3 linked regions of the Homo sapiens genome follow. The protein of the gene in region 3 purifies or fractionates together with the protein of the main gene of each other region. This does not show direct contact. Each region holds a gene or a part of one and is shown on either strand. Other genes may lie near its edges.

Evidence for each region.
Region 1: the proteins of MPPED1 (region 3) and UCKL1 purify together in Homo sapiens (affinity purification with mass spectrometry; 3 studies listed by BioGRID and IntAct, with this or other methods). This does not show direct contact.
Region 2: the proteins of MPPED1 (region 3) and TXNDC9 purify together in Homo sapiens (affinity purification with mass spectrometry; 4 studies listed by BioGRID and IntAct, with this or other methods). This does not show direct contact.

Annotation. Positions count from the first base shown.
Region 1 is NC_000020.11:63,942,904-63,946,551, forward strand, and holds part of UCKL1 (uridine-cytidine kinase-like 1), read right to left. Parts: coding exon 3,550-3,648; intron 3,365-3,549; coding exon 3,258-3,364; intron 3,097-3,257; coding exon of another isoform or gene 3,073-3,096; coding exon 2,902-3,072; intron 2,820-2,901; coding exon 2,748-2,819; intron 2,624-2,747; exon of another isoform or gene 2,180-2,623; intron 1,832-2,179; coding exon 1,642-1,831; intron 1,556-1,641; coding exon 1,494-1,555; intron 1,119-1,493; coding exon of another isoform or gene 963-1,118; exon of another isoform or gene 767-962; coding exon 750-766; exon of another isoform or gene 654-749; intron 1-653.
Region 2 is NC_000002.12:99,326,199-99,329,846, forward strand, and holds part of TXNDC9 (thioredoxin domain-containing protein 9), read right to left. Parts: intron 1,456-3,648; coding exon 1,337-1,455; intron 1-1,336. UniProt on the Homo sapiens protein: Significantly diminishes the chaperonin TCP1 complex ATPase activity, thus negatively impacts protein folding, including that of actin or tubulin.
Region 3 is NC_000022.11:43,474,480-43,478,127, forward strand, and holds part of MPPED1 (metallophosphoesterase domain-containing protein 1 precursor), read left to right. Parts: intron 1-256; coding exon 257-482; intron 483-3,648. UniProt on the Homo sapiens protein: May have metallophosphoesterase activity (in vitro).

The sequences.
Region 1 (3,648 bases), on a different chromosome or scaffold from region 3:
CTGGACGGCTGGTGGACGGGCCCTGGAGGCATTTCCAACATTTGGCAAACTCTTTGGAGGGCTCTGAATGTGAGGGCTCTCCCTCCAGGTGGCTCAGTCAGGAGCCTCCCAACCCACAGAAGGCAGGGAGAAGGGCAGGTCCCTTGTGGCTGACCCCCCTGCATGCCTGCCCTTGGGGAGGGACAGTGGGATGCGGCCCCGGCCCAGCCCAAGCTTCTTGCTGCAGTTGCCCAGTTCCTGCTGGCAGAGCTGTGCGGGCTGCGAGGACAGAGCTGGGGCAAGCAGGACCCGGGTGGGTGGGAGGACAGGCGCGAGGCCCTCCACCTGCAACCAGGGAAAGCTGACTGGTCCGTGAGGCTGGGCACAGGAGGTACAGCAGGCTCCCTGGCTGCTGGGACATGTCTGTAGTCACTGCCCCAGAGGCCTGGCAGTGCTGGCTCAGGAGGACAGCTGTGCTCTCTGGGGTCAAATCCCATAGACAGACTCAGGAGTCAGGGGAGCCTCCAGCAAAGTCTGGCCAGGACAGGGTCAGGACTCCGTGACGCTGGGCAAGCTACTTCACGTCTCTGTGCCTCAGTGTCCTCATCTGCCAGCAAGGGGAGGCAGAAGCAGGGCTGGGACCACTCCACACCACCCCTTCTGTGACTGGGGAAGAGCCAGCTGCCTGGCTGGATCACAGCCCAGACCCCAGAGCTCCTTGGAGGTGTTGGAAGTGCCTCCATCTGTGCAGACAGCTGTGCAAGTCTTACCTGACGCTGAGTTCACGCTGTGGCAGCAACACAGGAAGACACAAGGGAACGGTGGCGCGTCAGTGACCAGGGCAGGCGGCCAGGCCACCCCCACCCAGGAATGGACATGCTGCAGGCCCGCGGGGACACAGCCAGCCATGGGGGGTGGCAAGCTTCTAATGCCTGTAACCTGGGGACCACCTGGGCCAGACCTGCAGTTCTGCGTTGGGGCAATCAGAGCCAGGACCCTGGGCTCTGTTCTGCAGGCCTCAGGCCTTCAACATCCTGGTAGGGAGTGTGTTCAGAGCCACTCAGGCTCCAAGGCCCAGCCATAGAATGCCTCAGGGAGCAGGGGACCTCTGGTGGGGGTGTCGCTCCTGGGGTGACCCCCTGAGAAAGAGAGGAGCCTGGCCTGGCGTGGGACTCAGCAGTGAAACCCCACAATCCTGGGCCAGCAGGTCATGCCTGTCTTCCCAAAAGCTCAGGCTGGGTGTGCTGAGCGGGCTGCACCCTCGGCTGGGTCCTGAGCACCTGTACCCCCACCCCAGCTTCCTCAGGGAACCCAGGCCCTGCACAGCACAACGGGATGGGGTCTGGGCTGGACAATCTGACTGGCCAAGCAGGCTCAGGACACTCAGGGCTGGCACCTGGCAGGGGACAGTGAACGCAGGGGGATGAGGTGACCAGGCCACTGGGGGTGGTGGCAGCGGAGAAGTGGGTAGAGGGGCTGGGGGCTAGGCCGTGGGGACGTGGGACCCCGCTCACCTCCTCCAGCTGGCTGTGCACGTGCTGCACAATCAGGTCGATGGCCACCGTGTTGCCGCTCCCTGGGGCGGGATGGGGGGGCGGGTGACCGGGGGCTGGGCCGTTGGCCTGCCCGACACCCACCCAACAGGCAGCCCAGCAGGCTCACCTCTGGGGACCACGATGTCTGCCAGGCGCATGGTGGGCTGGATGTACTGGTCGAAGGAGGGCTTGACAAACTTGTTGTACTGCTTGATGACACCCTCGATGTCCCGGCCGCGCTCACTGATGTCCCGGCGCAGCCGCCGTACCAGGCGGATGTCGGAGTCTGTGTCCACAAAGATCTTCATGTCCAGGAGCTGGTGGAGACAGCGGGCCAGTGAGTGGCCAGATGCCAGCAGTGGGCATGGAGACACTGGGACCAGCCCCTGCACTGAGGCCGCCTGGTCCGTGGGCCTGGCCAGAGCCACTTCCCCAGGGCACCCTGGCAGGTGGGGAGGAGTGGGGAGGTGGGGGTGTCTGCACCTGGTCCGTGGGCCTGGCCCGAGCCACTTCCCCAGGGCACCCTGGCAGGTGGGAAGGAGTGGGGAGGTGGGGGTGTCTGGGGATGCGGTGCTGCCCGTCAGGGGCTTAGGTGAAGAGGCATGGCATGGTGGCTGGCTAAGGAATCAGGCAGGAATGGGGCTGGGCACATGTGATCTCCTTACTTTGCTTGGGGTAACTTGCACCAACACACTGGGGAATGGGGGACGTGGCGAGTTTAGGGTCTGTCCCCATGCTCAGCACACAGTAGTTGGCCCGTGAAGAGGCCTTGTGGAGGCTGGGGGCTGCTATGTGCCGGATGATGGAGTCCTCTGGGCCTGTACAAGGGGCAGGACCTGGGCCCTGGGATCAGGCCAACCTGAGTCACACTCAGCTGTGTCCTGAAGGCCCCCTTGAGCTACAGCAAAATCTCTCAAACACACCAGCCCTGGGTCCTCACCTGTCCGTCAGGACCACGGCAAGGGACGAGAACGCCAAGGACACTCCAGGTATGCGCACAGGCCTCAGCCGGTGGAGAGGAACCACTGCCTCAGGCAGCCACGCTCTGCCTTTTGGGGCCGGCAGATGGACCCAGCTGTGGCATGCCTGGGGTTGGGGTTGGGGTAGGGAGTGGCTGGCCTAGGCCTATACAGTGTGGAGGCCTTGGGGACAGGGCAGGAGGACGCACACCTCATGGACAGGGCGGCCAGGGCTGAGATACCAGCGGGGTGGGTATTCCCGGCGGGTGCTTACCTCCAACAGTGTCTTGTCAGCAAAGGCCATGATGCCCTCAAAGATGATGACGTTTGCACCATACAGTGTTTTCTGTGAAGAAACCCAGGAGTTGCGGAGCCTGGCTCATGTGCCTGCAGCCCCCCGAGGCCCCCTCTGCAGGGCCCTGGCCTACCCAGTCCTTCTTCCGGCTGTGCGTGGTGAAGTCATAAATGGGCACCTTGACACTCTTCCCCTGCTTCAGCTTCTTGAGGGTGGAAATGATGAGGTCGAAGTCAAAGGCATCTGGGTGGTCGAAGTTGAAGTTGTTGTGTGCGGCCTGTTCCTGCTGCTGCTCAGTCAGCACCTGGTGGGGGAGGCTGTGGAGCAGCTGTGGGCACAGTAGGGCCCTCACCCAATGCCAGCGGACAGGGGCTCTAGGCCTCCCAGGAGCAGCCACGCTGGGGCTGAGACCAGGGACCTACTTTTGCAGGGGGTCCAGGGTCAGGGAGAGGACAAAGGGGTCCTCGGGGGAGCTGGGCGGGGGCCCACCTTGTAGAAGGAGTCCATGGACAGCAAGACCACCCAGGGCACATCCAGGGCCTCGATGATCATTCTGGCCACAGTGGTCTTCCCAGAGGCACTGCCGCCTCCCAAGCCTGCCGGCGGGAGTGGAGACCCTCTGTGAGGAACAGGCAGGCTGCCGGCACAGATAGGTCCCAGAGGTGCCCATCCCGCTGCCGCTGCCTGCGGTTGCCCGGCTTCCTTCTCCTGCTCCACAGGCACTGGAGGGGAGCCGGAGGCAGGCGTCCGGCAGCAGGTCCCACCCCCCCGCTGCTCTCACCGATGGCGAAGGCCTCTTTGGATTGCGTGCCGTGTTCATTGTACCAGGGCGGCCGCCCGGCGGTGTAGATGGTACGCTTGCTTGTACGCAGCAGGGGAG
Region 2 (3,648 bases), on a different chromosome or scaffold from region 3:
TCTCACTGTTCCTCACAAGGGATTTCACCATCTCAATATTTTGTTTCATTTTTATTCTCTTAGTCAATGAATACCAGGCAATCAATTCTTGAAAGGTGTTAACTAACAATGAAGCTGTTGGGTTGTGAGATCAAGACAAAGGGGCAAGAAGGCCACAGAAATGAGAAAGAGAGCAGGGCTGAAACCACAGTGAGTGCCAGAGACTCTAGAGCACAGTGCTTGTCTGTCCTGGGTAGGCAGGTGCCAGTCAGCAGATGACTGCCATCATAGTTCCAGCTATGCTATTAGCAAGTTTTCTGATTTTTTAAAGAAAAATTCTAAGTGTGGATATTTTCAAAAGGAGTTATCTCTCGATTTTTAAGTGTTGGCAACTAATCAAATCTGTGCACAAAAAACCACAAAGGCTTGGGTCCTTTGGTTTACGATGTGACCTCTTCTGAGGAGGTATTAACATTTTATAAGAGATCTGCTTCCTTAGAGAAATTTGGAGACCTAGGGTGGTCTAAGAAAAATCACTTCTCCTTCTAGCCAAGACTGGCAGTCCCAACTCTGCTCTGGTGAAAGGTTTGGCCAAGCCACCATCTCCCCACCACAGTTGCTAGTTCCTTCAAGGAGGAACTGAAGGAACACTGACTCTCAACAGCTGTTGCCCGTTCCCAATATCATGGCTACATCACAATACTAGAGGGAAATAATTACTGTCATGGTGATAAGAATTTTAAGTGTACATTTCTAAGATGTTTTTAGTTAGCTAGTGAAAATACAATTCAAAAATATAAGCCATTTATATGGGAATATTGACTTTCAGTAATATTCATTTATACTTTTGCATGTAACTGTTCTTTAAGTTACTCTTTAAAATAACAATTAACTTTTTTTTTCTTTCTTTTTTGAGATGGAGTCTCACTCTATCGCTCGAGCTGAAGTGCAGTGTCGCGATCTCCGCTCACTGCAACCTCTGTCTCCTGGGTTCAAGCAATTCTCCCACCTCAGCCTCCCCAGTAGCTGAGACTACAGGTACCTGCCACCACACCCGGCTAATTTTGTAGTTTTAGTAGAGGCAGGGTTTCGCCATGTTGGCCAGGCTGGTCTTGAACTCCTGACCTCAAGTGATCCACCCCCCACTTGGCCTCCCAAAGTGCTGAGATTGCAGGCTTGAGTCACTGGGCCCCTGCCTGCTTAACTTAATACTAAATAACATATGAGAGAGTACAATGAAACAACTTAGGAAGTTTTTTCTTTTAGTTTTCTTCATTTCTCTAGTAAGCCAGTATATCTCCAGCCAAACAATTCACTGTGTTTTTTTAGAAAAAGTCACAGATGGAAACAAAGTTACCTGAATGTGGAGTCTCTGTAGAAATGGCAAACCACATTTTCACTCTCCTTGACTTCTTGAAAAAAGTCTCTTTCACTAGGGATTTCTCTGTATTCCCCATGTCCTTTAGAAAGCCATTCCTAATTTGGAGAGAGGCAAAACATTACACATGTGAGATATCTCTTTCAGAACCACTTGACATTTTAAGTGTCCAAATCACCATCGTATTTTGTAATGAAGTCAATTAAAAAAAAAAGTTTTTTTTTTGTTTGTTTTTGTTTTTTTTTTTTGAGACGGAGTCTTGCTCTGTCACCAGGCTGGAGGGCAGTGGCGCGATCTTGGCTCACTGCAACCTCCGCCTCCTGGGTTCAAGCAATTCTCCTGCTTCAGCCTCCCGAGTAGCTGGGACTACAGGCGGGCACCAGTATGTCCAGCTACTTTTTGTATTTTTAGCAGAGATGGGTTTTCACCATGTTGGCCAGGATGGTCTCGATCTCTTGACCTTGTGATCCGCCTGCCTCGGCTTCCCAAAGTGCTGGGATTATAGGTGTGAGCCACCGCGCCCGGCCCAAAAGTGTTATTTATTTATTTTTTTTTTGAGAATGGGTCTTGCTAAAGTTGCCCAGGATGGAGTGTGGTGGCATGATCATAGCTCACTGCAGCCTCAAACCTCCTGGGCTCAAGAGATCCTCCTACGTCAGTCTCCCAAGGAATTGGGACCACTGGCGCATGCCACACCACGCCTGGCATTTTTTTTTTTTTTTTTTGGTAGAGACGGGGTTTTTACTATATCGCCCAGGCTGGTGTCAAACTCCTCGGTTCAAGCAATCCTCCCACCTTGTCCTCCAAAAGTGCTGGGGTTATAGGCATGAGCCACTGTGCCTGGCTGAAGTCAAAGAAAAATGAATGTTTTTTAGCAATTTACTTTCCTGTTTCTACTGTCAATGCAAAACTAGTCTACGGACAGTGAACGTCTCCACAGCATGGCCTGGGTTCAAGACAATTACCTGTCTTTGTAGCTTAAAACATCTATTTTCTCAGAACTTTCAAAATAAAAATTTAGACTTGAGAGACTCAGAATGTAAATATCCACTTAACTCTATCCATGTACTCTTAAACTACTAAAACCAGAAGCATTTGATCCAAGTTACTACAAGTCTTTTAAAAATAATGCTCATGAGGCTGGGTGCAGTGGCTGATGCCTGTAATCCCAGCACCTTGGGAGGCTGAGGCGGCTGGATCACCTGAGGTCAGGAGTTCCAGACTAGCCTCGCCAACATGGTGAAACCCCGTCTCTACTTAAAAAAAAAAAAAAAATACAAGAAATTACCTAGCTGTGGTGGTAGGCGCCTGTAATCCCAGCTACTTGGGAGGCTGAGGCAGGAGAATTGCTTGAACCCAGGAGGCAGAGGTTGCAGTGAGCTGAGATCACGCCACTGCCTGGGCAACAGAGTGAGACTCTGTCTCAAAAATAAATAAAAATAAAAATAATGCTTATGAGATAAACCCAATTCGTCTTGGGGAGAAAAGGAGGATACTGCAGCTCTGAAGCTCAAGAGCCCTGTCTGCTTTTGATAACCACTTTATAAATGCTTAAAAAGTCTCTATACCTGCACTAATTGTTAGAAAGGTCATCTCACACTGAACTGCAATATATCCATAATTCTGGTCTGTGGATTCCAGCTTGGATAAAGATTAAAGTTTTAATCTCTTTCCCACGTGGGCCCTTCAAACATCACATATTGCCTAAGTTTTCCCTTCTCCACACTGAACACTTCCAGTTCCTTTTAACTGTTCTCATATGAAAAGATTTCTAGAGTTCCTACTCTTCCAGGATATCAACTAAACACACTCTAATTCACCAATGTCTTCTTAAAATGTGACAGAGGTCTGAATCCAGCCTCCAGAAGGGGTCCAACCAAAGAGCCAGGAGGGCCATCTCCCTTCCTCCTCTGGACGTCAGTGAACGTGGCCCAGACTATATTGATGACTGCGGTGTCAAAATCACATCCATTTACATCGAGCTGACACTTGCAGGATACCCTGATATTTTCTTATGTGAAATTTCTACACACAGTTTAACTCTCAAATACAATTCCCTAATGACATATGACATTTCATGACTGCTTTCACAACTTACCAATGATATGTGCCCTTAAAAAGTATTTGTTAGGCTGGACGCAGTGGCTCACACCTGTAATCTCAGCACTTTGGGAGGCTGAGGCAGGTGGATCACTTGAGGACAGGAGTTTGAGAACAGCCTGGGCAACACGGCGAAACCCTGTCTCTACAAAAAATATGAAAATTAGCCAGGTGTGTTGGCACACACCTGT
Region 3 (3,648 bases):
CTCCTGCCCGCCCCTCTCTCAGCCATGCTGTGGCTTCTGGACAAGCTGACAGCTGTGTGCTGTGTGTCTGTCTGTGTCCACCCCTGCAGGCAGCCTGCCCTATGAGTACAAGATCGTGATCGCGGGCAACCACGAGCTGACCTTTGACCAGGAGTTCATGCAGCTTCCTCCTGCCCGCCCCTCTCTCAGCCGTGCTGTGGCTTCTGGACAAGCTGACGGCTGTGTGCTGTGTGTCTGTCTGTGTCCACCCCTGCAGGCAGCCTGCCCTACGAGTACAAGATCGTGATCGCAGGCAACCACGAGCTGACCTTTGACCAGGAGTTCATGGCCGACCTCATCAAGCAGGACTTTTACTACTTCCCATCTGTGTCGAAGCTGAAGCCGGAGAACTATGAGAATGTGCAGTCGCTGCTGACCAACTGCATCTACCTTCAGGACTCGGAGGTCACCGTGCGGGGCTTCCGGATCTATGGCTCCCCATGGTGAGTGGGCCTGGGTGCTGGTCCTGCCTGCTGGTGAGACCAGAGCTGAGGCTGAGCGCAGGGGGTGTAGGGGATGGGAGTAGCAGCAGGGAGCTCCGGATGCGAGGCTCAGGACTGAATCTTGACCCCTTACCCTCTGTGTGACCTAGGCAGGTCACCGCTGCTCTCTGGGCCTGTTTTCCCACATCTCACTGAAAATAGTATTATCAGCTGTAACCTGTGTTATGCTATGCTGTACTAGCTCACTTACAGGCAGGTACTATTATCTCCATTTTACAGGTGAGGAAACTGAGGCCCACAGTGGGTGAGGACCTTGCCAAAGGTCACACAGCTAGGAAGGGGCAGAGCTGGGATTAAACCCAAGCAATTTGGTTCCAGAACCCCTGCCTTTAATGAATATTCTATAATGCTAGGAATCTTTCTCTAATGCTGTCTTCCTGCTCCATACAAAAAAAGATGCATATGTCAGGGGCTGGGGGAGATGATGATCGTAATAATGATGATATTGGTGATGATGGTGATGGTGATGATGGTGGTGATGATCATCATGATGATGGTTGTGGTGGTGGTGGTGGTGGTGATGTGATGGTGATGGTGGTGATGATGATGGTTGTGGTGGTGGTGGTGGTGGTGATGGTGGTGATGATGGTGGTGATGGTGATGATGGTGGTGATGATCGTCATGATGATGGTTGTGGTGGTGATGTGGTGATGGTGATGTGGTGATGGTGATGATGGTGGTGGTGATGATGGTGGTGATGGTGATGATGATGGTTGTGGTGGTGGTGGTGGTGGTGATGATGATGATGAGGGTGAGGGTGAGGGTGATGATAGTATGGTGATGGTGGTGGTGTGATGATGATATTGAGGGTAGTGATGGTGATAATGATGGTGATGATGATGGCGATGCTGCTGATGATGGTGATGATGGTGGTTATGCTGATGGTGATGATGGTGAAGATGGTGATGGTGGTATGGTGATGATGTGATGATGGTAATGAGGATGATTACGGTGGTGGTGGTAGTGATGGTGGTGATGATGATGGTGGTGGTGGTGGTGTGATCATAATGGTGAGGGTAGTGATGGTGATAATGATGGTGATGATCATGGTGGGGGTGGTGGTGATGATGATGATGGTGATGGCAGGAAATAATTTCTGAGCAATTACAGTAATCTGGGCCCTAGGCTAAAGGCTCTATAAACCTTATCTCTAATCCTTACTCAGCCCTGTGAGGACTGATTTATTATCCCTATTCTATAGGTGGACAGAATGAGCGGCCACAGGGTGCCCAGTGCTGGCAGGGTGAGGTGGGCTTCATACATGGAAGGGCAAGATCACATATGCTTAAAAGTGTGGCTTGATCCTGGAAGGCTCCCTGGAGGAGGTGGGGTAACCTGAGCCTTGAGGGAAGAGAAGGGTATTCACAGGCAGGGAGGAGTAACGTGGCCTGAGGCTGCACTATCAGGAAGCAGCACAGTCAGCGAGGCTAAGGAGCCCTTTAGAGGCACAAAGGGCTTGCCTGGGTGGAAGGACTTCAGAGAGAGCTACTGCCAGCACAGAGCATCTGGGAAACCCCTGTGGCCCTGGTTGGTGCCTCATGGTGACCACCTAGTGGCTGGAGGCGGCAGGCAGATTTAGGACCTGGTTTCATCTTGCCATAGCCTCCTCATGGAGCAGAGGGGAAGGTGGGGAGGTGCAGGGCTGTCTCATCTTCCCTGGCCTCGGCAGGTGCCTGCTGTCATCTCCCTGGACTTCACGATGTACAGGGTCTTGGTGAACCCTCCCTGCAGCCAGTGAGGTCCCAGACAAGGACCTCTGGGCACTTGAGGATGTGATGAGGTCAGTACCAAGGACAAGGAGAGGAGGGGAGGTGGCTGAGTCTGCCTCACCGGCCACTAGAGCTCAGATCTGGAGAAGTCTGATAGGCCAAAAACCAGGAGGGCCGTCTAGAAGGAGGACCCAGCAAGCTTTCCCCTTGACCCCCCTACCAGCCAGGTGCACACACACAGCCTGTGCCATGCCAGGGAGTGGGAGAAGCCGAAGGACAGAGAAGGGAACTCGAGCCCAGGAGGTGGGTTCAGGGGCCCTGCTACCCTGCTCCAGAAGGGGTTTGGTGAGATCCAGGAGGGCTCCCTGTTGGAGGGGGCATTTGAACTGGGGCCAAAAGAGGCATGAGATTTCCACAGGCAGAGGAGGCAGAGGGAGACCACATGTCTGAACCTCTGTTATGTGTCAGGCCCTGTGCCAGGCTCTTCTTGGGCCTGTCACTTGACAGCCCTTAACACAAGGGCTGAACGCCCCCTCTCTCCATCCCGCAAGGGAGGCTGTGAGCTGGTGCTCCTCCTGTTCCTCTCAGGCCCTGTCTGGGGCTGGGAGCAGGTGGTGGAGGTGAGACCTGGGCTCATTTGTTGGGCAAGTTTCACTCAGTTTCCAACCGGGGTGAGCAGATTGCCTGCGTCTGCTGCTGTGGTGCCACGGAATGGATGCCAAGCCACTCTGGCCGCTACCCTCCCCTGGGAGGCTGGGTCCCTGCCACCATGCCCCAGCAGAGAGTGTCTGGGAAACCCCTGGGCTGCCCTGGTTGGTGCCACATGGTGGCCACCTGGCGGCTGGAGGCTGTGGGCAGATTTAGGACCTGGTCTCATCTTGCCACGGCCTCCTCATGGAGCAGAGGGGAAGATGGGGAGGTGCAGGGCTGTCTCATCTTCCCTGGCCTCGGCAGGTGCCTGCTGTCATCTCCCTGGACTTCACGATGTACAGGGTCTTGGTGAACCCTCCCTGCAGCCAGTGAGGTCCCAGACAAGGGCCTTTGGGTACTGGAGGCTGTTCAAATTGGGATACCACCACTTTTCAGCTGTGTGACTTTGGGCAGGTGGCTCAGCCTCTCTGGTCTTTCTGTGTAGTGGGGAAACGACACCGCCTGCCTTGTTGGGGGGTTGTGAGGTCTGCTTGGGCCCATCCAGGTGAAGGCCTGGCTCAAAGGAAGGCCCTGGAGAGTGGCTGTGGTCATTTATTATTACTGGGGTGCTCCTTGGGGAGCGAGGAAGAGGATAACTATTTAGTTTTATTCCACAAACCCCAAGGCAGGGCTAGGCCTGCAATTACCCCATTTTACAGAAGGGCAGGTAGAGGTTCAGGCAGGGATGTGGCTTGTCCAGGGCACCC